Homo sapiens: one gene and its partner. The protein of the gene in region 1 purifies or fractionates together with the protein of each later gene. This does not show direct contact. Each region holds a gene or a part of one and is shown on either strand. Other genes may lie near its edges.

What was found.
Region 2: the proteins of TANGO2 (region 1) and SH3GL2 purify together in Homo sapiens (affinity purification with mass spectrometry; 3 studies listed by BioGRID and IntAct, with this or other methods). This does not show direct contact.

Annotation. Positions count from the first base shown.
Region 1 is NC_000022.11:20,053,556-20,066,109, reverse strand, and holds part of TANGO2 (transport and Golgi organization protein 2 homolog), read right to left. Parts: intron 10,168-12,554; coding exon 10,097-10,167; intron 4,937-10,096; coding exon of another isoform or gene 4,875-4,936; exon of another isoform or gene 4,621-4,874; intron 4,615-4,620; coding exon of another isoform or gene 4,581-4,614; coding exon 4,427-4,580; coding exon of another isoform or gene 4,423-4,426; exon of another isoform or gene 4,404-4,422; intron 3,616-4,403; coding exon of another isoform or gene 3,536-3,615; intron 2,773-3,535; coding exon 2,668-2,772; coding exon of another isoform or gene 2,512-2,667; intron 1,569-2,511; coding exon 1,448-1,568; 3' UTR 1-1,447. UniProt on the Homo sapiens protein: May be involved in lipid homeostasis.
Region 2 is NC_000009.12:17,753,887-17,766,440, forward strand, and holds part of SH3GL2 (endophilin-A1), read left to right. Parts: intron 1-7,550; coding exon 7,551-7,623; intron 7,624-12,554. UniProt on the Homo sapiens protein: Implicated in synaptic vesicle endocytosis. May recruit other proteins to membranes with high curvature. Required for BDNF-dependent dendrite outgrowth.

The DNA of each region.
Region 1 (12,554 bases):
TGGGGTCTCTCACAGCGGCCCCTGCCCATGGACAGATGGACTGACCCACAGGCATCCACATGTGGTGCTGAAGAAGCCGTGAGGAAAGGGGGAGGTGGGAAGGGCCTCGTCCAGGGTGTCTGGCTGCACAGGAGACATAGCAGCTCCCACTGGCACCCTGCATACAAGGGAAAGGCCTCGAAATGCGCTCACCAAAGCCTCAGAGTTTTATTATCAGGAGCTCACATTCAGGTACAGATTCCTATGAAGTTTGCCTCACCTGGAGGGAAGAGGGAGAGAGCAGGGCTGGCTGAGATGGGGCTGCCAGAGGCATGGTCTCCAGCTGGGTAAGCGGGATTCTGAGAGCCCCTGGTGCACACGGAGCCTCCTGGCACACACAGGATTGTCTCAAACACAGAGGACCTCTGGCACACTCAAGGGCACTGAATCTAGCAATGAGTCTGCACTTCTGTTATGAGAGTGGGTTTTTCGGCCAGGCGTGGTGGCTCACGCCTGTAATCCCAGCACTTTGGGAGGCCGAGGCAGGTGGATCACCACGTCAGGAGTTCAAGACCAGCCTGACCAACATGGTGAAACCCCGTCTCTACTAAAAACACAAAAATTAGCTGGGCATGGTGGCACACGCCTGTAATCCCAGCTAATCAGGAGGCTGGGGCAGGAGAATTGCTTGAACTTGGGAGGCGGAGGTTGCAGTGAGCCGAGATCGTGCCACTGCACTCCAGCCTGGGTGACAGAGCAAGACTCCGTCTCAAAAAAAAAAAAAAGAGAGAGTGGGTTTTTCTCAGGTCTTCTCGGTGCCCAATTCCAAATGTGGCTGTCTCCTCTGCAGGAGCAGGTCTGCTTGTCAAGAGTCCAAGCACGCCTGTGTTCTGTGGCCACAGGAGAGGAGGGGCCGCTTTTAAATACAAGCCTACTCCTGTCGTTGGACCAGAACAAAGACCTACTGGCCAGAAGCACATGAGAGGTGAGAGTCGCCCTTCTGCCTTGTTCGGCATCGTGTGTGTGCACCTGTGTGTGTGTGTCTGTGCAACTGTGCATGTGTGCACATGTGTAGCACACCTGTGCACGTACATGTGCCTGTGTCGGTGTCCATGTATATGGCTTGCATGTGTGTGCTTGTGCACACGCAGGAGTGTATGTGTGTGCCATGTGAGTGCCTGTGTACATGTGCAAGAGTGGGCTCAGGTGTATCCACATGTTCATGGTATACCTCGGCCGGTCCTAGACCTAGTATCAGACTCTGCTGCTCCTCACTGGCATAAAGGCAGACCCTGAACTGGGCATGGGGACACAGATGGGTAACACGCAAACCACAGGGCCCTGATCCGGGGGATGCTGGCCAAGCCACGGGCAGTGCAATGCAGTATGGCAAAGGAAGGTTTCCTGTCCACAGTGCCCCTCAAGGCAGGGCCCCCCAGGAGCCCACTGGCCAGGCCCAGAGGTGGGGTTAGCTCTGCAGTGTGAACTCATAGGTTCTGGTCTCCCAGTGGGAGAGGTCCTTGTCCATCATGCTACGCTCAGTGAAGGTCACGTGGCCGTCCGCATCTACCAGGATGATAGTGTTGGTTCTGAAAGAGAGCAGGGGCCCTCGTTCACCTGGTGTCCCTCAGCCCTGCCCTGCCTGTCACAGCCACAAATAGGGCAAGAATGCAGGCAGGTAGAGTTAGGAACCCCATGCCTGGAGGCTGTGCCAAGTCACAGAGAGCAGCAGCCTCAGTCTTGGGGATGATGAGGGGCCATCAGTGGCGTGTGAGCTCTTGGCTGGCTCCACAGGCCCACACTTGCTGAGTCCTGCCACCTTCACTGGGAACCACCCCACCCTGCCCTGCTCTCCCCGTGTAGCATGAGCCAAGGCATAGGGCAGCCTGCGGGCTGACCACACACTTCCCCTTTGGAGGCCCAGGTTCCCAGACACAGCCATGCTTGGTTCTTCCAAGAGGTCAAGCTGTTGACCACTTGGGGCCCAGGCCTCCTCTGTCTGGAAGGCTTCCCTCCTGTGCCCTCTCTTCCACTGCCCAGGCCATGCCAGCCCACCTGAAGCAAACATTCAGCACACTCTCCTCTCCTCCAACCCTCTCTGCCGTGGGCTTTGCAGACGGAGGGTGGCCCTGGATCCCCCAACAGCCCCAGCACAGGCTGGTTCCCAGGGCAGACACATACGCAGTGCACCCCGTGGGGTGGGACCCAGCGGCTATGCGGCCTGCCAGGGAGTGGAGTTGGCACTTGCCTTCCCCTCACACACAGGAAGATGAGCCTATGACAGAGGAGGGGCTGAAGGAAATGACACCCTGCACCTGCCAATGGGCCAGCCAGCCCCAGGCAGGAAAGGCTGGCCAGCAGCCACCACCCAAGGGTACAGCCTGCAGGCCTAGTGCCATGGTGCCGGGGCGTTTGCCCGCAGGGATCCACCAATGTGCAGGCAGCCCTGAAGCCATCCTGGCCCTGTGTGGCTGTGTACTGGCTCCTTAAGCCCAGCCTGTGGGGCCCCGGGAGCCTGTGGTATCTGCTCACCCTGCAGCTGCGTCTGGACAGGGCAGAAGCTCTGGAATCCACTCAGGCGAGGAAGAAGCCTGGCTCTGGCTATGGGCACTTGGCTTCTTTGCCGGCCCTCTAGCGTGGGAGGTGGGACATGGGATAGGAGGTGGCGCACCCACGGTGCTGCAATACCTGGTGCCGTAGCCAGGGCAGCGCACGCACACAGCCGCGTACTTGCTCAGCATGGGCTGCACGTACTCCCCACCCTGGTCCTCGATGGCCGGGTCTGGCAGCTGCCTGCAGGATGGAGAGAAGTGGTGGCCATTAGTCCCTCTGTGGCCCGCCCGCAGCCGGGTCTAGCCCCAGCCCACCTGGTGGCCTAACTGGCTCTGGGGAGTGGCCGGGGAACTGCAAGGGTTGTTTCTTTTCTTCTTTTCTTTTTCCTCTTCTCTTCTCTTTTCTCTTATTTTCTTTTTTTGAGGAGGAGTTTCACTCTTGTCGCCCAGACTAGAGCGCAATGGTACGATCTTGGCTCACTGCAACTTCCACCTCCCGAGTTCAAGCAATTCTCCTGACAGAAGTCCACTCAAGCCAGCCATTGTAGCTAGCATCGGGGCTCCAGCCGTCAGCTGGGATTACAGGCGTGCACCACCCAGCCATCTAATTTTGTGTTTTTAGTAGAGACAGAGTTTCACCATGTTGACCAAGTTGGTTTTGACCTCCTGACCTCAGGTGATCCGCCCACCTCGGCTTCCCAAAGTGCTGGGATTACAGGCGTGAGTCACACACCAGGCGTGTTTCCTCCACGTTTCTGCTCAAGGCGGAAAATCTCCATCTACCCTTAACTTATGACTCAATCGTGGAGCTTTGGCCCCAGATGGCACATACAAGCTCCCTGCCTGCCCCAAGAGGTGCCCTGTGGGCATTTGCCTCTGTGACAGAAGTCCACTCAAGCCAGCCATTGTAGCTAGCATCGGGGCTCCAGCCATCAGTGAGGGCAGCCAGGGCCGGTCCTCGGCCTGCCCCAGATGGCACATTGATGGGGGCTGTGTGGACTTACAGCTGGGAGGGGCTGCTGGGCATGCCCAGGTGGGGCTCTTCCAGTGAGGCAGCGATGCTGAGGCTGAAGGACGAGGCCGCCTATCAGAGGCCCAGAGGAGAAGGAGGGTAGGCAGGGGGCAGAAAGGGGCCCCAGGGGGAGGAGTGGGAGATGGTCCATGGGTGCTTCTCTGAAGGGGGCAAGCTGGACAGGGTGGGAGTGGACGCTGGATCACCTGGGCAGGGCAGTGGTCTGACCTGGGTGGGGAGCGAGGGATGGGTGGGGCATCTCGCCCAGTGGGAGAAAGGCTGGCATGGCAAGCACCAGGACCCCCGGCTGGGGCAACGAAGACCCCAGTGCCTGGCCCCTGAGGGGCCTTGAGGCCTACGGGCAAGGAAGTGGGTGGGAGCTCCTACACCCAGGCAGTTCCCGGAACTGCAAGTCCCTGCCCAGCACTCAGCCCAGGGTCGCTGGGGACAGACCGCTTGCGGGAAGCCCATCAACCCTGAGCGTGCTGACCCTAGCCACTCATTTCCATGATGTGTCTCTTCCGCCTGGGTTTGCTGAGTGTCTAGAATCTTCTGGAACTTCCCACAAGCTCTCGGCATGCAGAGGGGAGCATCCATCTGCTCTGGGCCCCACGTGGCTGCATCAAGCCTCTGGGTGCACTGAGCCTCCCCTGGGCCTGGGCCTGGGCCTGGGCCCATCTTCTGTCATCAAAAGTCCCTGGTGTTGGAAACCTCAGCTGGCTCAAGGGGACAGGCAGGGAGGACAGGATATCCATCAGCTTCCCTGCAGCTGGGGACCCAGCCTGGCCACTTCCATGGGCCTCCCGGGGCAGCAGGGCCTGCCTTTCCCTCTGCCCTGGTGGCGGGACACTGGGGCTCACCCCAGCAGGACCCGCCCACTCACGCCTCTTCATTGTTGAGCACATCCAGGAGGCTGGCGATGAGCACATCCTTGGGCAGCGCCTGGCTCCGTTCCACAGCCTCCAGGAAGAGCTGCTTCCCAAAGCACAGCTTCCTCCAGGGAGTCTCCAGCAGCGCGTTGCTCAGCCCGTAGGTGCCTGTGAGGAGCAATCAGCGGGCCATGCAGAGGCCCTGCTGTGCCATGTCAGGGCAAATTGCCACCTGCCACCCACCTAACACGGGGTACAGCTGGGGACCATGAAATCAGGCCAGACTGAGGCCAAGCCGCTCCATGCTCCAGCTCCTTCCCCATGCTCATTCCTGACCTGATGGCATGGCAAGGAGAGGAGAACTCAGCAGTAGGCGGAAGCGGGCACCCACAGGAGACCACAAGGCACAGATGCCCAGCAGCCTCGATGGATGGATGAATAAGAAATGAGCAACCTGAGATCTCACAGGCAAAGGGGACAGCCAAGAGGGAACCTCTTCACCTCACGCCAGGTTGGGGGGCCACCTGAGAAGTTCAAGAGTGGGAGAATTAGCCACCAGAGGCCAGGAGGCACCCACCACAATCATGTCCCTGTTTGGGGAACCCCCAACAGCGCCACACAGTGGGCACAGGTGTAGGCTGGGCCTCAGCAGAGCATGGCCCACCTCTGCGTACCAGCCAGGCCCCAGGTTAGGAGAGCCGGGGGGCTCTGCACAGACTCTGAACAAGCTCCCAGAGTGTTGGCAGAAGGCATGGCCAACAGGAAAAGGGTTTCTCATGTCACAGAAAGTGAAGGGCAGGGACTTGAGGTGGAGAAGCACCTCACCTCAGAGGCTCTTCTCTAGAGGCCAGGGCAGCAGGGGTGGGCTTGATGGGAGCCAAGCACCCCAAATGATGCACCAGGGAGACCAAGACACCACCCTCTCCCTGTCAGACTTCCAGGAGAATATCTTGGCCGAGGCATTTCCCAGGGAGACAGCCTGGCTCTGCTGGGGCCCCCAGAGCCAAGCCGCCAGCCCCAGGTGTCACAGTGCTTTTTCCATCATGAACAACATGGAAGACCATTGAACTGCATAGTCATGGGCAAAGAAGGGAGTTGGACTCTACCTGACACCATACACAAAAGTTAACTCAGGTCAAGAGAGGTGGCTCACTCCTATAATCCCAGCACATCGGGAGGCTGGGGCAGGAGGATCACTGGAGCCCAGGAGTTCAAGACCAGCCTCGGCAAAATAGCAAAATAGTGAGGCCTTATCTCTACAAAACATAAAAGTTAGCTGAACATGGTGGCACACATCTGCAGTCCCAGCTACTTGGGAGGGAGGATCTCTTTTTTTTTTTTTTTTTTTTGAGACGGAGTCTTACTCTGTCGCCCAGGCTGGAGTGCGGTGGCGCAATCTCGGCTCACTGCAAGCTCCACCTCCCGGGTTCACGCCATTCTCCTGTCTCAGCCTCCCACGTAGCTGGGACTACAGGCACCCGCCACCACGCCTGGATAATTTTTTGTATTTTTAGTAGAGACGGGGTTTCACCGGTTTAGCCAGGATGGTCTCGATCTCCTGACCTTGTGATCCACCCGCCTTGGCCTCCCAAAGTGCTGGGATTACAGGCGTGAGCCACCGCGCCCGGCTGGGAGGATCTCTTAAGCCCAGGAGGTTGACAGTGCAGTGGGCCATGACTGCACCACTGCACTCCAGCCTGGGTGACAGAGCCAGACCCTGTCTCAAAAAAAAAAAAATAGTTAACTTAAGTCAAACCAAAGACCTAAGTGAAAGAGCAAAAGCTATAAAACTCTAAGAAGAAAGTATTGGGGAAAGCTTCATGACCTTAGATTAGGCAATGGTTTCTTAGATAAGAAACCAAAAGCATGAGCAACAAAAGAAAAAAAAAGAGAGAGACATAGGACTTAAAAATTTTAAGCTTTGTGCTTTAAATAAGAGACTTGTAGCTAGAATGAATGTATAAGTCACTCCTATAACTCAAAAAGACAACCCAGTCTGAATAACCATTTCTCCAAAGAAGACATACAAATGGCCAACGAGCATGAGAATAGCTGCTCAACATCATAGCCATCAGAGAAACGCAAACCAAACCACGAGTCCACACAACTTCACACCCACTATCGTGGCTATCATCAAAAACACAGAACATAGCAAGTTTTGGTGAGGATTCAGAGAAGCTGCAACCCGCATACACTGCTGGTGGGAATGTATAATGCTGCGGCTGCTTTGGCAAACAGTTTGGATGTTCCTCAAAAGGTTAAACAGGGTTACCATACGACTTAACAACTCCATTCCTACGTATTCACATGAGAGCCATAAAAACATATGACCACACAAATGCTGTGAGGTCACACTGTGAGCAGCACTGTTTCCAACAGCCAAAAGGTGGAAAAAACTCAAGTGTCCATTAATGGATAAAGGGAAGAAACAAAAAGTACCAACTGGCTCGAGGGTTCAGGGCAGCTGTCTCAGCAACTCCCTAAATTCCTACAGCTACAAGAAAAACCACAGTCTTGATAAACTCCCTCACAACAGTAGAGATCACACACGTTATCAGACCCTCCTAACTCTTGACAGCCCAGACCACCACAACCCTGACTGGACAGAGAACCAGCCTTCAAACACTCTTTTCTGATAAGCAACTACAGACCATAAGCCAGTTTCAGCAGTTCATAGAGGCTGCACTCCAACTGTGTCCTAGAGCTCACCTTCTGATGGAAAGATCCAGATTCTACCTCATTTTAATGCTAAAACCCTGCCCCAAAGTGAACATGGGATGTATGTTACATGTATGTTTATCTATTGCATATGTTCTCGGGTCCCCTCATAAATATGTATGGCTTTTCCCCAAACCTGCTGAATATGTATGACTCTATTGTGTGATATGGACCTTGGGAGGCATAAAACTCAAACTGCCCTTCCCCTCTTCAAAGAGAGCACCTCAGTCCATGCTAGAGACTCTCTCTTCCGGGTCTGCAAACTGATATGGCAAATAAAACTCTCCTTTCTATCATTTAGCCATGCTGGTGAGTTTTTCTTTGTTTTTTTTTTTTTTGAGATGCAATCTCACTCTGTCGCCCAGGCTGGAGTACAGTGGCGCGATCTCAGCTCACTGCAAGCTCCGCCTCCTGTGTTCACGCCATTCTCCCGCCTCAGCCTCCCAAGTAGCTGGGACTATAGGCACCTGCCAACACGCCCGGCTAATTTTTTGTATTTTTAGTAGAGATGGGGTCTCACCGTGTTAGCCAGGATGGTCTCGATCTCCTGACCTCGTGATCTGCCCGCCTTGGCCTCCTAAAGTGCTAGGATTACAGGCGTCAGCCACCGTGCCTCGCCACTGGTGAGTTTTTAGACGACAACACTAAGTGAAAAAAGTCAGTCCCCTAAACTACATATTATAGGATTCCCTTTATACAAAGTGTCCAGAATAGGCAAATCCAGAGACAGAAAGCAGATTAAAGGTTGCAGGCGCTGAAGAGACGGGGAATGGGGAGTGGCTGCTGACAGGTATGGCTTTCTTTGGGGATCAAGAAATGTCCTGGAATTAGGTAGTGATGACAGTTGCTCAACTCTGTGAATGAAACGAAACCTACTGAATGATACACTTTAAATGGGTGAACTGTGCCGCTAGTCAGTCATATCTCAATAAAACTTTATCAAAAAAAAAAAGGCAATGTGGACCAGGTGGGGCAGGCTCAGGGATGAGGCAGGATGTAGACAGAAATAAGTTCTACAGAACAACAACTGAGCAGAAAATAAGCATCTCCAGCCACGGAGGTCTCAGCCTCTGAGAACCGAGGATGCCACGTGGATGGTTACAGCGACTGCCCCAGAGGCCGCTGGGCCAATGTTCACAGTGAGGGGGTGGTAGGGAGTCTCTGACTGCTTTTGCACCTTTTAGTTTCCAATTCTCTCCTGGGCAGTCACAGGCTCAGCATGGCCCAACTCCACTGCCACAGACCTACTTCGCCACACATTCCAACCCCACGACCCTCAACTGATGCGGAGGTTCTGGGGCAGGTGGAACAGCAAGAGCTGGCTGAGACAGCCAGAACAATCCTTTGCAAGCTCAGGACCTTCTGGGGCCACATCCCTGCCTCGCTGGTAGTCTCTGTGTCTGTGCCACTGCCCAGCTCTTGGGAGCTCAGGTGGGCTGCCCACAGTTGTATCCAAGGTAGGGAGGGGAAGACCAGGGTCACAGAGGGTGGCCGGAAGGATAAGCCCCAGGTGGAGGAGAGGGCACCAGCTGGTAGGCGTGGGGGCAGTGGGTGGGACACACTGGAAGCCACCCTCCAGGCAGATGCCTCCTCTGGAGATCCCAACTAGCCCAGGGGTTCGGGTCTGGGCACCACCCTAGCAAATGGGGGCTGGGCCTATCTGTGGATGAAACATCACTGGGCAGACGTGGGAAGCTGGAAGCCAGCTCCAGTGTGGGCCAGGCAAGGACCACAGGACTCATGATGAGCCCGTCAGCACCACCAGCCCCCTAAGATGCAGGTGGGATGGGGCCACTCAGCTGTCCTGGGGACTGCTTATCATCTCCCTCGGGCCCCTCCAGGGACGCCTGGGGCTTCAGTTCCACCGTGTACACCCAGTGGGAAGGTGTGCACCTGTGACCTGCAACCTCACTTGGTGATTTGTGCCAAATGCAAAAGAAAGTCTGTGTGACGTGGGCATGGAGCTTCAGAGGAGCCAGGGGTGTGAGGGAGCCCCCTCACAGAGGGGTGTGGGTGGCGCTAAGGGCACTGACACACTCCCCAGGCGCCGGAACACCCTGTGTGAGCCAGCAGCTTGAGTAGAGGGACCAGAGCGGGCGTTTAAGGCACAGAGTTCCACGATGCCACCAGCGAGGAGTGTCTGTGGGCAGCGAGTGTGGGAGTGAGTGAGCCAGCAGTCCCCGGAACCTAGGCTATGGTCCCTACAGTTTTGTGCACCCAGGGGAAATGCCATTTCCCAGGAGTGCTGCTTTGTCCTGGCACCAGACCTGGGACAAGATGCAGACCTCCCTCCCAGAACATGGCTGCAGAGGGGGGCAATGTGACACATTCTCTCCAGGTTGGGGCACTGGCAGAGGAAGCTTCCAGGAAATCGCAGCACCCGAGGAGGGGGAAAGGAAGGGCATGTAGCAGGAGGCACAGCCTGGGCAGTGGTGCAGAGCCAGGGCAGGAAGGGCCCAGCCGTGGAGTGTGACCTGGCGCAGAGGGGCTCGAGGCCCTGAGGATGGGGACCGGGGATCAGACTGGGGACTGGGTGCAGGAGGCGTGCATCTGTGTGGGGCTTGAGTGGGGTGTGTACTTGTGCGTCAGGGAGCAGACCAGGCAAGAACCCCAGGTGGTGATGGCTCCAGAGGTTCTGAGAAGGAACAGGCACAGGGCACACTGGGACGGCACAGGAAGTGAGGCTGGGGGTGGCCGGCTGGGCTGCAGGGCTGCGGTGGGAAGCCCAGAACAGGGGCGCACCTTGCTCAGCAGGAAAAGCCCATGGGGAGGGGGTGAGCAGGGAGCCAGGGCTCTCTGAAGTGTCCAGGTGCAGGGCAAGGTGCCCACAGACCATAAGGCACTTAAATGGCCACAAAGTCATCTCAGAAGAGTAATATGACAAGTGCCTGGTCTCTAAAAAGCACAAGGGTGACCTCTGCATAGAAACAGTCCCCCACCCCATCAGGCTGCCAGGGCAGGCTCACCTGGCGTCAAAACGATAGGATCAGGCTCCCCTCGGTTCCCATAGTAGCAAATGACGTCTCCCTTTGCTGTGCTGCAGGCCAAGGGGAGAGAATGTCAGACTACAGCCATAGGGCGTCCTCCCCGACACTGCCCGGTGATCTCACAGCCCTGTTTCTGGAGGCTAGCGATGTGCGCAGTAGCCCGCTGCGGCCAGGTCAGGAGCTTGCAGGACCCAGCCCCTCAGGTGCCTGGCAGGCGGGGTCATGGAGGCCCCAGCTCTTGTCCAGCATCACGGGTATGTTCCCAGCTCACCTCGGGGCCCACCAGCCCAGGAGGCACAGGATCTAAAATGCCCTCCTGCCATGCCGAATGCCCCATGGCATGGACACACAGAGGCTGCCCATGGGGACAACTGCAGGGCTGAGCCCCATCCCCACATCACCAACCTCTCCATCAGGCCCCTTACCACAGCTCATCTATGAGGGTTTCTGGACAGGTGGCCCCAGTGTGGCCCCAGGGTGATCGAGGCTTCCAAAGAAAGCGCCAAAGACCACATTTTCCTACTCTCAAGTGTTAAGTGTACACTTTAAAATAGTTAAGGGACAGTAGAGCTGGGCATAGTGACTCATGCCTATAGTCCCAGCTAATCTGGAGACTAAGGAGGGAGGACTGCTTGAGGCCAGGAGTTTGAAACCAGACTGGGCAACATAGCAAGACCCCATCTCTACAAAATAAATAAATCATTTTTTAAAAAGAAAATAGTTCAAAATGCTCCCCAGCTGAAAATATTCCAATCCTCAATACCACAGTAAGTCTTCTAGAACTTGGAGTGCCTTTTTTGCAAAGTGAAGAGGATCTCTTTGTGGCCTGTGAGATGCCCTCCCAGGCCAGATGCTGGGCATGGAGCCCTGGGCCTTCAAGATGGAACAGATGCAGAGAAAGAGCCAGGCATGGTGCCTTCCTCCCCGAAGTGCTGCCCCCAGGTGGGACCCACCTTCCCCACCCCTGGTAGGCTTCAAGGGCCCCCCCGTCTATGTTCACATTCCACTCCCGTTCTTCCTCACCATGGTCTTTGGCAACTTTCCTAAGATACTTGGTTCATAATTTCAGAGACTGTTTGCAGGCAAAAATCTCCTCTGGGCTTTCTGTGTAAGGACCTACAGAACTGGACACCCATGCTGCCAGCACTATACCACAGGCCAGGCGGAGGGCAGGCCTCACCCAGGGATAGCTGTGGCCATGACAAGCCTCTCTCCCTTCCAGGCCTTGGCTTCCTCATCTGCACCTACCAGCAGGGCTGCTCACTGACCTCCGATGCCCCCGCCCTCCAGCCTCGGCCCTGGCACCAGCTTTTGCCTGACCTGTGGTATGCTCTCCTGGCCACTGCCTGTATCCTCAGGCTAGGTCCAGGAGGCTGACCCTCACTCTGCAGCCTTTGGAGCCGGGAGAGTTGCACAGGCTCTGAGGAGCCCAAACCCCCAACCCCCAACCACAGGAGCCCGTGTATCTGCTCAAGGCATGGCACCCTTGGCACCCCACCTCCACACAGCTGCTGAGTGCCAAGTCCTGCTGGTGCCACGGCCGCAGAGGAACTCTCCTGAGACTAATCAGACCCACATGGAACTACTGACCGGGAAAAGTGGTTCCTGAGCATGGGGGCATGCAGAGAGCACAGGGGCTCTGCCACCTGGAGTCACGAAGGCATGGGCAGGAAGAACGGCTCCGGACAGCAAGTGCCCCGCACCAGCCCTCGGCCTTCCACCTAGGGGACACTGCAACTCTCCCAGCCTCCATAGCAAGTGTGCAGACCCATGTGGGGCAGGGCTGGGCATGCCACACACAAGGGATGCTCAACGAACAGCAGGCCTGGAGCTCGGGAGCCAGGAGAGAGGCCCATGGACCTGCCCTTGTGGAAGGAGGCAGCTTCAGGGCCCGCCACAATGTGCCGACCACTTCCCGTTTGCCTGTCCTGGCAGAAGGCCCCGGACTAACAGCATTGGCCAAGTTCTGGGGCTTTGGAGGGGGAGGAGGGCAGGAGGGAGGAATGCTCACTTCACGGAAGGGCAAAACACCAAAACCTCCGCAGTTCCTGCGGCCTCATCTCCAACAGGAGCTTCCCTGGGAGCACAGCATCCCAGTCACTCCAAGCCAGGGCTGCGGAGGGCTGCTCTGCACAGCCTGCCCGTGGGAGGGAGGACACCCGGCCAGAGCCACTCTATGTGACTGTTCTTCACAGCCTCAGCTTTCTCCAGGGATCCGGCAGCCCTCATGCCATCACAGGAAGCCTTGGGCTTCACCCCCAAATACCCGAGTTGGTACATCTGTGACAGGCTCAGTCCTCAGAATGTTTGCCAAGTCACGAGGAGCAACGTCCCTGGAGAGGCTGCCACAGCCCCCAGTGGAACCCCACTTCCTGATGAGCCTGAGGCCTGCCCCCGAGGCAGTGCTGGGCAGAGCCGCCATCCCCCTCTGGCAGAC
Region 2 (12,554 bases), on another chromosome or scaffold:
TCTGCATATGGCTAGCCAGTTATCCTAGCACCATTTATTGAATAGGGAATCTTTTCCCCATTGTTTGATTTTTGTCAGATTTGTCAAAGACCAGATAACTGTAGGTGTGCAGTTTTATTTCTGAGATCTCTATTCTATTCTGTTGGTTTATGTGTCTGTTTTTGTACCAGTACCATGCTGTTTTGGTTATTGTAGCCCTGTAGTATAGTTTGAAGTTGGATAGCATGATGACTCCAGCTTCGTTCTTTTTGCATAGGATTGCCTTGGCTATTCAGGCTCTTTTCTGTTTCCATATGAATTTTAAAGTACTTTTTCCTAGTTCTGCTAAGAATCTTAATGGTAGTCTAATAGGAATAGCATTGAATTCATAAACTGCTTTGAGCAGTATGGCCATTTTGATGATATTGAGTCTTCCTATCCATGAGCATGGAACGTTTTTCCATTTGTTTGTATCATCTCTGATTTCTTTCAGCAGTGTTTGTAGTTCTTCTTGTAAAGAACTTTTGGCCGGGTGCAGTGACTCACGCCTGTAATCCCAGCACTTTGGGAGGCTGAGGTGGGCAGATCATGAGGTCAGGAGATCGAGACCATCCTGGCTAACATGGTGAAACCCTGACTCTACTAAATATACAAAAAATTAGCTGGGTATGGTGGCAGGCGCCTGTAGTCCCAGCTACTCGGGAGGCTGAGGCAGGAGAATGGCTTGAACCCAGGAGGTGGAGCTTGCAGTGAGCCGAGATCACGCCACTGTACTCCAGCCTGGGCGGCAGAGTGAGACTCTGTCTCAAAAAAATAAAATAAATAAATAACTTTCACCTCCCTGGTTAGCTGTATTCCTAGGTATTTTATTATTTTTGTGGCAATTGTGAAGGAGATTGTTCCTGAGTTGGCTCTTGGCTTGACTGTTCTTGGTGTATAGGAATGCTAGTGATTTTTGAACATTGATTTTGTATCCTGAGACTTTGCTGACATTCTTTATCAGCTTAAGAATCTTTTTGGCTGAGACTGTGGGGTTTTCTGGACATAGGATCATGCCGTCTGCAAACATGGATAGCTTGACTTCCTCTCTTCCTACTTGGATGTGCTTTATTTCTTTCTCTTGCCTAATTGGCCTGGTCAGGACTTCCAATACTATGTTAAATAGGAGGGGTGAGAGAGGGCATCCTTGTCTTGTGCCGGTTTTCAGGGGAAATGCTTCCAGCTTTTGCCCATTCAGTATGATGTTGGATATGGGTTTGTCATATATGGCACTTATTGTTTTGAGGTGCATTCCCTTAATACCTAGCTCATTGGGACTTTATAACATGAATGAATGTTGAATTTTATTGAAAACCTTTTGTACATCTATTGAGATAATCATGTGTTTTTCTTCTTTAGTTCTGTTTATGTGATGAATCATATTTATTGATTTGCATATGTTGAACCAACCTTGCATCCCAGGGATAAAGCCTACTTGATAATGGTGGATAAGCTTTTTGACATGCCTCTGGATTTGGTTTGCCAGCATTGTATTGAGGATTTGCATCAGTGTTCATCAAGGACCTTGGCCTGAAGTTTTCTTTTTTGTTGTATCTTTGTGGCTAATTTTAAAATCTTTTGTATAGATGGGGTCTCACTTTTTCCCAGGCTAGTCTTGAACTCCTGGCCTTAAGCAATCCTCCTATCTTGGCCTCCCAAAGCACTGGGGTAACAGACATGGGCCACCATGACTGACTGAATTTATTTATATATTAATGATCACTAAACTCACAAAGTGTTGGTGCTCCCTTTAAGGTGTCTATGTTTTTCTTAAACTTTTGCTCTGCTACAGCATCTGGTATAATGTGGTATCTAATAGTATGAAATCATATCTTTCAGTCCTTTTGTTGCTCCACAAACAACGCCACGCTGTTCACGAGTCCTTACACCTAAGTTCAGGAAATACCAACTTTTCTTCAGGGAAGAAAGGTAATATTCCCATGTCTCTGGAAGAGTAACCCCATTCTAGTCATTTCCATGCCTTCTATTCTTTAGTATCTTGTCTCTAAAGACTGAGACAGCTGGTGAAATAATCAGTATCATCTATAGATTCAGCATGGCATTATTATTAGTGAAGCTAGCACCTAGCACAGGAATCAAGATTTTTTTGTAAGTGCTTTAGGTTTTTGGGGCCAGAGGGTCTCTGTGGTCTCTTACAACTCCTTGCCAATGCTGTCAAAACACAAAAGCGTCCATTGACAGCGTTTAAATGAATAAGTATGGCTGTTTTCCAACAAAACTTTATCTAAGGATGCTGAAATGTGAATTTGAAATTTGAATAATTATTTTGTGCAGTAAAATAGTAGTCTCATTTCAAATTTTTTCAACCATTTAAAGAAGTAGAAATGGAAGTTTTTATTACCTAAAAAACATGCCTGTATCTGTATATATTTACAGTTTCACTTTCTTTTTTTTATTTTTATTTTTTATTATACTTTAAGTTCTAGAGTATGTGTACATGTGCACAGCTTGCAGGTTTGTTACATATGTATACATGTGCCATGTTGGTGTGCTGCACCCATTAACTCGTCATTTACATTAGGTATATCTCCTAATGCTATCCCTCCCCCCTCCCCCCACCCCACGGCAGGCCCCCATGTGTGATGTTCCCCTTCCTGTGTCCAAGTGTTCTCATTGTTCATTTCCCACCTATGAGTGAGAACTTGCGGTGTTTGGTTTTTTGTCCTTGCAATAGTTTGCTGAGAATGATGGTTTCCAGCTTCATCCACGTCCCTACAAAGGACATGAACTCATCATTTTTTATGGCTGCATAGTATTCCATGGTGTATATGTGCCACAGTTTCTTAATCCAGTCTATCATTGATGGACATTTGGGTTGGTTCCAAGTCTTTGCTGTTGTGAATAGTGCCGCAATAAACATACGTGTGCATGTGTCTTTATAGCAGCATGATTTATAATCCTTTGGGTATATACCCAGTAATGGGATGGCTGGGTCAAATGGTATTTCTAGTTCTAGATCCCTGAGGAATTGCCACACTGTCTTCCACAATGGTTGAACCAGTTTACATTCCCACCAACAGTGTAAAAGTGTTCCTATTTCTCCACATCCTCTCCAGCACCTGTTGTTTCCTGACTTTTTAATGATTACCATTCTAACTGGTGTGAGATGGTATCTCATTGTGGTTTTCATTTGCATTTCTCTGATGGCCAGTGATGATGAGCATTTTTCCATATGTCTGTTGGCTGCATAAATGTCTTCTTTTGAGAAGTGTCTGTTCCTATCCTTTGCCCCCTTTTTGAAGACTTAAATGTTAGACCTAAGACCATAAAAACCCTAGAAGAAAACCTAGACAATACCATTCAGGACATAGGCATGGGCAAGGCATTAGACTTCATGTCTAAAACACCAAAAGCAATGGCAACAAAAGCCAAAATTGACAAATGGGATCTAATTAAACTAAAGAGCTTCTGCACAGCAAAAGAAACTACCATCAGAGTGAACAGGCAACCTACAGAATGGGAGAAAATTTTTGCAATCTATTCATCTGACAAAGAGCTAATATCCAGAATCTACAAAGAACTCAAACAAATTTACAAGAAAAAAACAACCCCATCAAAAAGTGGGCGAAGGATATGAACAGTTTCACTTTCTTTAAACAGCCTTCCCTAATGGCTCCTCACACCAATCCCAGGCAAGGTTAGTTGAAGACGGAGGCTCAGGAGCTTATAAGATGAGAAATTCTTGTAATTTAGGATGCATCAAAACTTACTTTCAAATAGTAATTGGAAATTTTGGACATTGAGAAAAATAACAGTTACATGTCATAAGTTCAAAGTTAAACTGTACTGTTCTCAAATGGCAATAAGCTCAATTCTGGGAGCTTATGGGAATTGCTAGTTATAATAAGTTACTTAAGTGGAAATCTTCTTTATGCTAAGTTAATCAGGCCTGTTACTAAGAGAATATGTACTTGGATATTACCAGCTTAGGTATATAAATAACTCTTCTGCCAAGTGCATAACAAGGCACATTCAGGGGTCTCATGGGGTTATGGCCCTCAGCTTGTCTCTGGCTGACACAGTGTAGTTTAGCAAAAGAGTCCTGGGCATTATTATGGAGGACCGAGGTGGAGAGAAGTTAGAAATTAGTCAGCCTCCTACTGGCAGATGACTTCAGAATGTGACTAATCATTGGACCATTCAGTTCTTCTGGTACTTTTTTAAAGAAAGCCTCTGATTAATGGCCTTGGGAACTACTTTTCTCCTCATAACACACTTAAAGAGCTCCTTTCCCTTCTCTAGGCCACAGGTGTGGACATTTAATAAATTAAAGCGTTAAACAGAATGCTCCCCTGGTCTCTTCCTCTTATGTCCATGAAGTCTATCAAGTAATTATCTGTAAGAATGCAGCCATGCCTGGTGCAGTGACTCATGCCTGTAATCCCAGCACTTTGGAAGGCCAAGGCGGATGGATCACTTGAGGCCAGGAGTTCGAGACCAGCCTGACCAACATGGCAAAACCCCGTCTCTACCAAAAAATACAAAAATTAGCCAGGCATGGTGGTGCGTGCCTCTAGTCCCAGCTTCTTGGGAAGCTGGGGAGGGAGAATCGCTTGAACCTGGGAGGAGGAGGTTGCGGTGAGCTGAGATTGCTCTACTGCACTCCAGCCTGGGGGAGAGAGTAAGACCCTGTCTCAAAAAAAAAAAAAAAAAAAAAAAAAAAAAAAAAATTGCAGTCAGTAGCAAGGGCCTAGGAATGGATTTGCCAAAAGTGGGTCCCTCTTTAGTATAATTCCTGATAATGAAATAAAAATGTAACTGTATTGAATAAAGTTGTTTTCAGAGGTGGTGGATTTCAAGCGAAGGTTATTTTATGTTGTAGTCAAAAGGGTTTAGGTAGAACTTGCTCTGTAATGATGCCTGGACTAGGTAACCAAAAGTGTTGAAGGAGTCTGCCTCAATGGGCACAAAGTCGGTAAACATCTGGGTGGGATGAGCTCTTTCTTTAGACAAGTCACAAGGGACACTGGAATAGTTTTTATTCCTACTTCTCTTTTAAGATGGAGTCCTGCCCTGGGGACCAAATGTAATAATCTAATATTGGTATCCCCAGGGTCTCTGGGTCTTCCCTGAGACCACTGGCTTCAGCCAAGCTAGTGGTGTCTGTTTACACTACATGAGTGGTTGGGCTCCCTACACAGAGCTTAAAAGGGAAGGGGGTTCTGTAGCCAAAATGAGAAACTAGCTTTCACAGCCTTCCTTGCTCACCTCCCTGTGGGCCAGGTGGGATAGACACTGCAGGTACCAGTCTCTGTAGGGAAACCCGTGAAACTGAGGGCCTGTGGTTCAGCAGATCAGCATTGCAGAGCCTCCCTTCCAGAGAGGCCCAGGATGGAATAGTCTTGTGGATGAAGCTTCCACAGACTTTGAGAAGTTTCAAAATAAAAACAGAATATGGGATGGCAGGTACCTTCCTGCTGATGCTGTTTCACCGGCTACTGCCAGGTCCCCAGCCCCATCTTAGGGAGGGAACAAAGCATATTCCAGCTCTGACTTGGCCTCTCTTTCAGATTGGGAGATGCCTCTGTTGCCTGTCTTTTTAGGAAGAGCTTTTGCTTTCAAGAAGTATAGGATGGTCATTAAGAACACACACACTGGAACTAGAACTGGGGAAGTTTCTTAACCCCTCTGTATCTGTTTTCTCATATACATTACAGAGTTTGTGAGCATTGAGTGTGTAAAGATATTTATAGTCCTTAGAACAGTTTCTGACAAACAGAAGACAGCTTATGGTGATGATTGTTATAATTATTAAGGACAGAGATGGGGGAACCTTAGAAATTGGTCAGCCCCTTAACAGCAGATGACATCAGGATATCAAACAGCCATTGGAAAATTTAATTCCTATGGCACTCTTTTTTAGAAACCTTGGCTTTTTGAATGATTTTCCTTCTCATCATAACTACAGGATATTTAGACACATTTGTCATCTAATTCCTTAATTCCCATCACATAGGCAGCAGGAGATCTACATTTGTACTTCTATCACACATGTACCATGGAGTTTCAGCATATTTGTTCCATACACACCTTTGATCCATTTCCCTGGCATAAGACATTCTATGACTTGAGTACATAGTGGTTGTTTGGAATTTTGCTAATACTAGGACCTTCACATATGGCTTCACAAGTTGTGTACTGCACAACTCCAGGGGGCTACTGAGCATTTTTAAGCTAATCACTACCTGGTACACACTCAATCTTAAAGATCTTTGAAATTTGAATCAATCAAAAGGATATTTATACAAGATTTATATGTAGACAGGCACATTTGAAATTGCATCCTTCTAAAGATAATTTTATATCATTATAACTTCACAAGAAAAAATTTGTTTTCCTCTGTTGATCCTAGTAATAGCAAACACACACAGTAATATGACTGCCATGGAATGAAAAATTATTAAGTATTGAAAAACTGAACTGAAAGATAAAATCTTTTAATGTGTGGATTATGGAAAAGGAGGAGGCTTACTTTATGCAAGGCTGATATTATATACCGGTATATATTATATACCGGTATATATTGGTATATACTGATATTATACTGGTATATACTGATATTATATACTGGTATATATTATATACCACTAGGTACAGCAGGTTATGGAAAAGTTTCTCATAGTTGAAGGGGGAGCCTTTTAACAAACAGAAAATTTCTCCAGTGGACTTAATTGATACCTAAATTTCTACATTAAAATTTAATCACTTTCATTTATACCTATGTCATATATTACATGTACATACCTTGAATAGGAGGATGCATTTATTCTCATTAGTCATTTACCATGTAGGGCGAATAGGAGGCCCACAGATGCTGATAAGAAAAGGATTTCTTGGAGAAAGACAGAGAGCACTGCAGTGAGCACCTTCCATGACCTCTTTCAAGTGGGGAGAGGGGCCTGACAAAGAGAACACGGTGAGATGCTGAAGGCAAACACTGACCATTCCAAATTTAGAAATTTAGAGGATAGAACAAATTTGGAGGATAGACTCTAGCATCAAGATTTTTGTTTAGCATTAACCAAAAGTTCAAGGACAGACTAGAAGTCTTTGCTCAAGATTTTATATTTTTAGGATGTTCTTAGAAGTTAAATAAAAAGCTCCCCACTTCTTGAATAAGCAGAGTTGATGCTGCATGATTCTTTCTTGAGGGCAGCAAAATCTGCCTCCATGCCTGACCCACTGTAGGCATCCAATAAATGCCTCTGGGACAAAATATGTTTCATTTTATTCACCTTATTTTCACCAGAAGGTAATGAATTATATTTTGAAACAAATTTTAGGAAACTACAAGCTTCTTCTTTGGATAAACGGGCTTTCCACATCTTGGCAGACCACTGCTGAGTACAGTGTCAGCATGACTTCCAGCCGCGTCTCAGCCTCCCTCACCTACTGCGGGACTTGTCCGGGGCTCTGTTGCATACCCCGCCATTGTATACAGACTCAACCAAAAACCGGTATTCTAAAGCTCATCATTTTTGTCATTTAGAGCACTTATTTTCTCATTTCAGAAAGTGGATGTCACCAGCAGGGCTGTGATGGAAATAATGACTAAAACAATTGAATACCTTCAACCCAATCCAGGTAAGGCATCATCTTATATGTTTAAAGGATCCCTCGAGGTAACTTTTAGTTTCTCTTTGATAGACATTTTAAGTTTGGTGTGTTTCTTCTTTTGGTGTTGCTTCCTCGGTCCACTTTTCTGAGAGGTTAGCGACTTCATGGATAGCACATTTTAACTGGGGAGAAGGGCTTTTTAAAGCTCACATTGAAGTAACTGGAAGATCTGTGGTATTTTATCTGACTGTGGTATATTTAACAAATAATGTATGCAAACAGTTCAGGTGACACATAATATCAGAGTAGCTATAAACTGTTATCAGTTTGAACTTTCAAGAGATGGTAAGAAGGAAAATTAGGATAGTTTAAGGTAAGATATAATGATTCCCAGAAGATGTGAAAAAGTAGGGAGGTGAATCGTTTTCATGAAACACAGAGGGTTTCTTCATAGGGCATCACCAAAGTCTTCAGAGCGTTGATCTTGATTCTGATTCTTCTCCAAGCACATCACAGATCAGCATTGGTTCCTGCTAACTTGTTATACTCTAAGAAAAAGAAGTGGTAATAGAGATAACGGAGCTATATGTTGATAAGAGGACCAGGCAGAGTTGGGGCAGTTTCGGTAGGCACTAGGTATAGCAAAGCAAAGCAAAGCAAAGCAGCCTACCTGATAGACCTCCTCATTACCATTCCTGTGTGTCAGTTTCTAACCACAGGGCACGGAAACGGGAAGTGAGGCTGGTTGTATTTAAGTGAGATGTGTGAATATTTGGAATACCCCTTAATCTTGAGGCTAGTTTCTTTGCAAGTTTCAGGTTGGGGTTCCGTGTATTTTATGGTCCTAGAGAGGATGGTGCAGACAACTGCTTCAGCCCCAATGAGTTTGGATACTGAGCAATAGTGGACAAGTGATCAAAAAAAAAAAAAAAAGGGGGCGGGTGTGGGCTGAGAGGAAGCAGGTGTGTGCTGTACTAAGTGCTGGCTCCTTTTCTATGCCCCCTGCTGCTGGCTGCAGCTTCCTTCCATCCTTATTCACCTATGACCAGCCCAGCTGCTATTCTGAGGATGAGCAGACTATGTAGGAATAACTTTCTGGATATTTGTTGCTGTTGTTTTTGTTCATAAAACACATTAGAAATGAGCTTATGTGAGGGAGGAAAATATGGAAGAAAATGTGATAAGCTATAGGAACCAGGAATTTAACTGACAGTGGTCTAGATACATTTTCAAATGCTTAGCAAATTTGTCAAAGCACTGCAAAAATCAGGTTTCTTATTTTTACCCAGAACCTTCTTGGTAACCACTGTTTTTCACAGAGATGCAAAGATCTCTTGGATGCACATTTATTCCTTACTGTTTAAACCACTGTCATAGGTCAAGTTCTGAAAGAGAACTGCTCGCCCTGCTTCCCCGCAAGAAATCATTATATAGGGGCAAGAAGTTTTGGTCTTTATCTTTGCCTAGAACCTTGAAGTACTCCATGATTTCCTGGGATTTTCACGAGTTGTACTTGTAACTCATGGTTGTAGGGCTAAGAGAAAGGCAGTGGGAGGAGGAATATAGTATTTATTGAGCACTGATGCATTTTCAGTGCAGTGCTAGGTATATGAGGCATTGTCTCATCTTTAAAAGTAACCATTTTTCTCCATATAAAGTAAAAACAGTTGAAGAATTTCTAGTATGAAAATAGACTAAAAATTCATTGTAACACAAATTATCAGTGGGAGCTCATCAGTTTTCCTGAGTATAATGGAACTGTGCTCTGTTGTAGGTAGGTGTGGTGGGTTGCATTGTGTGTCTCCCCAAATTCAGGTCCATCCAGAACTAAACTTATAAGGAATGTGACCTTATGTGGAAATAATCCTTGCAGATGTAAGTAGTGATGTAGGATCTTGAGATGAACTCTTCCTAGATTTAGGGTGGCCCCTAGAACCAGTGATGGGTGTCCTTATGAGAAGAGGAGAGGACACAGAGAAACACAGGAAAGAAGGCCACGTGAAGAATGAGAAGAGGTTGAAGTTACACGTCACGAGCAAAGGAATGCCAGGAGCCACCACCACAAGCTGGAAGACATGAGGAAGGATTCTCTCAGAGCCTCCAGAGGGAACCAACTTTGCCGACACCTTGATTTCAGACTTCCGGTATGCTGAACTGTGAGGGAATCAATTCTTTTCTTTGAGGCTGCCCAGTTTGTGGTCATTTGAAATGACAGCTCTAGAAAACTAATCCAGTACGCTAGCCTCATTTTATTCAGGAAAAAACAAGGGTCAGAGAATTTAAGGAACTTTCCCATTCATACACCTAGGAAGGGATGAAGACAAGATTGGAACTCAGGTCTGACTACCTCCTAAGTCTCTGCACTTCACGTTGCACGATCCTGCCTCTGAGAAGGGTAGGCTCCATTTCATTTAGGTGTGAAGGGTCCTTCCCTTTCAGAGAGTACCAGAGAAATTCAGAAAGGAAATTGTGGGATTAAGGCTTATTTTTATTTTAATAAAAAACATCAAAGGAGGAGGTAATTGAGAAGATCTGAATGTTTAGAAATGACATTTTTAATACAATATTGCATGTGCTAATTGGCTGCCAATATAATGGTTTTGTGACTATTTGAGAGTTGAATGGACATCTGCCACTAAGAACAATGAAGGCCATTACAGGCAATTCGAGGTTGGTTTCAGAAAAACAGTTATGTATGGGCAGGCCACATACATATATGAGTAAGTACTACCCAGAAGAGTCCAGAACAAAACGAAAATTTTGTGTAATCATTCCACAGAATTTAAACAACCTGCATTTAATTGTTTACAACAGGTACAATTTCATCCCTCCACCAGCTTCTTGCCCTGAGAGTAGACACTGGCCATAGAGCCCAGACCAGGTAACTGGTAAAGTTGAGAGTTAGGCAGACACCCAGAGAGACAGTCCTTGGGCACAGGAGAGCACAAAGAATGTTCCCAAACTCGTGCAGTTTGCTAAATACTTTGCCCACTCAGCCTTTCAGTGAACCCTAGAGCTGGGCCAACCAGTGTGGATACTGAATGCTGGTTCTGAATAAGCAAGATATGGCCTGGGTTAGGACAGGGCCTGATGCCAAGTAACACATTTACATGGACAGGCCAGGGGAATCAGTAGGATTTGATGCTTCGAGGGTACTTTGGGAGTACATCTGTATTAGATTACTGCTCCCGGGTGCTTGCTGGCTTTCACATCTTGGGTACATGGACAGGCCAGGGGAATCAGTAGGATTTGATGCTTCGAGGGTACTTTGGGAGTACATCTGTATTAGATTACTGCTCCCGGGTGCTTGCTGGCTTTCACATCTTGGGTACATGGACAGGCCAGGGCAATCAGTAAGATTTGATGCTTCAAGGGTACTTTGGGAGTACATCTGTATTAGATTACTGCTCCCGGGTGCTTGCTGGCTTTCACGTCTTGGGTACATGGACAGGCCAGGGGAATCAGTAGGATTTGATGCTTCGAGGGTACTTTGGGAGTACATCTGTATTAGATTACTGCTCCCGGGTGCTTGCTGGCTTTCACATCTTGGGTACATGGACAGGCCAGGGCAATCAGTAGGATTTGATGCTTCGAGGGTACTTTGGGAGTACATCTGTATTAGATTACTGCTCCCGGGTGCTTGCTGGCTTTCACATCTTGGGTACATGGACAGGCCAGGGCAATCAGTAGGATTTGATGCTTCGAGGGTACTTTGGGAGTACATCTGTATTAGATTACTGCTCCCGGGTGCTTGCTGGCTTTCACATCTTGGGTTCATGGACAGGCCAGGGGAATCAGTAGGATTTGATGCTTCGAGGGTACTTTGGGAGTACATCTGTATTAGATTACTGCTCCTGGGTGCTTGCTGGCTTTCACGTCTTGGGGGTGTGGAGCTTACACATGTTTTCTATTCTTAAAACTCAGTTCCTATTGAAGTGATGACCAAAGTGATTTTGTTTAGCTTTTAAGAATACATGGCTATGCTCTGTGAAGGTCCTACATCCACTCTTGCCCATCTCCAGAATGATATTTTAAAAAGCAAATTTGGTCATATTATGTAAAACCCTTCCATGGCTTTTCATGCCTTTAGGATTAACTTTCATTTTTAACATGGCTTAAGGGGCCCTCCCTGCATGGTCAGCCTGCCCTTTCCCCAACACCTTGCTAGGCTAACAGCTCCCTCGGGTCCAGCGTAAAGGTCACTTATTAGCCTTCCTTGGCTCCAACCACATTAGGTTCCCCTGTCACTGTCCCTCTTGTAATCCCAGCTGCTTTTCAGTGGGGCACATGCCATACTTGTGGTTTTGTTTTTCATCCGCCATGAGTTCAGCACTGTGCCTGTCTTATTCACCACCACATCCCCAGCCCCCAGCTCAGTTCCAGGCAGCCAACAGGCACTGGGATATTGGAATAAATGAATTATGAAGCACAGTTGACTGTCAGTGTCTAATGTACTAAAACTTCTCTAATACAAAAAGTAGGAGGAAAAATTCTTCCTTTTCCCTAAATCATCAGATACTCATATGTAACCAACATTTGTCACATGCATTTACTTTTATGCAAAGAGCAATTCTAGATGCTGTGGGGCAGAAATGAGACCAAGACTGGAGGCTTGTCCTCTGGAACCTCACAGTCTTAGTGTAAGTTACACACAGTCTGAGGAGAGGAGCCCAGAAGGCTTCACAGCTAATTCCTCCTGGAAAATCCAGCTAACTGATGAGATGTGGAAGTGTGAGCGGGATCACAGGCTTAAACGTCTGCCCTGTGAGGGTGGGCTTTCGAGAACGCAGGACAGACAGCTGTAAAGTCATCCAAGCTTGAACTGCAATAGCATGAACCAGTACACATTCCTAAAATGCTTAAATAAGATATAATTTGAATATAGAAAGTACTGTGCACAAATTCCATTCTACTGGTTGTAAGTGCCTATTCTTACGATATTTGTGAGCAAAAATCAC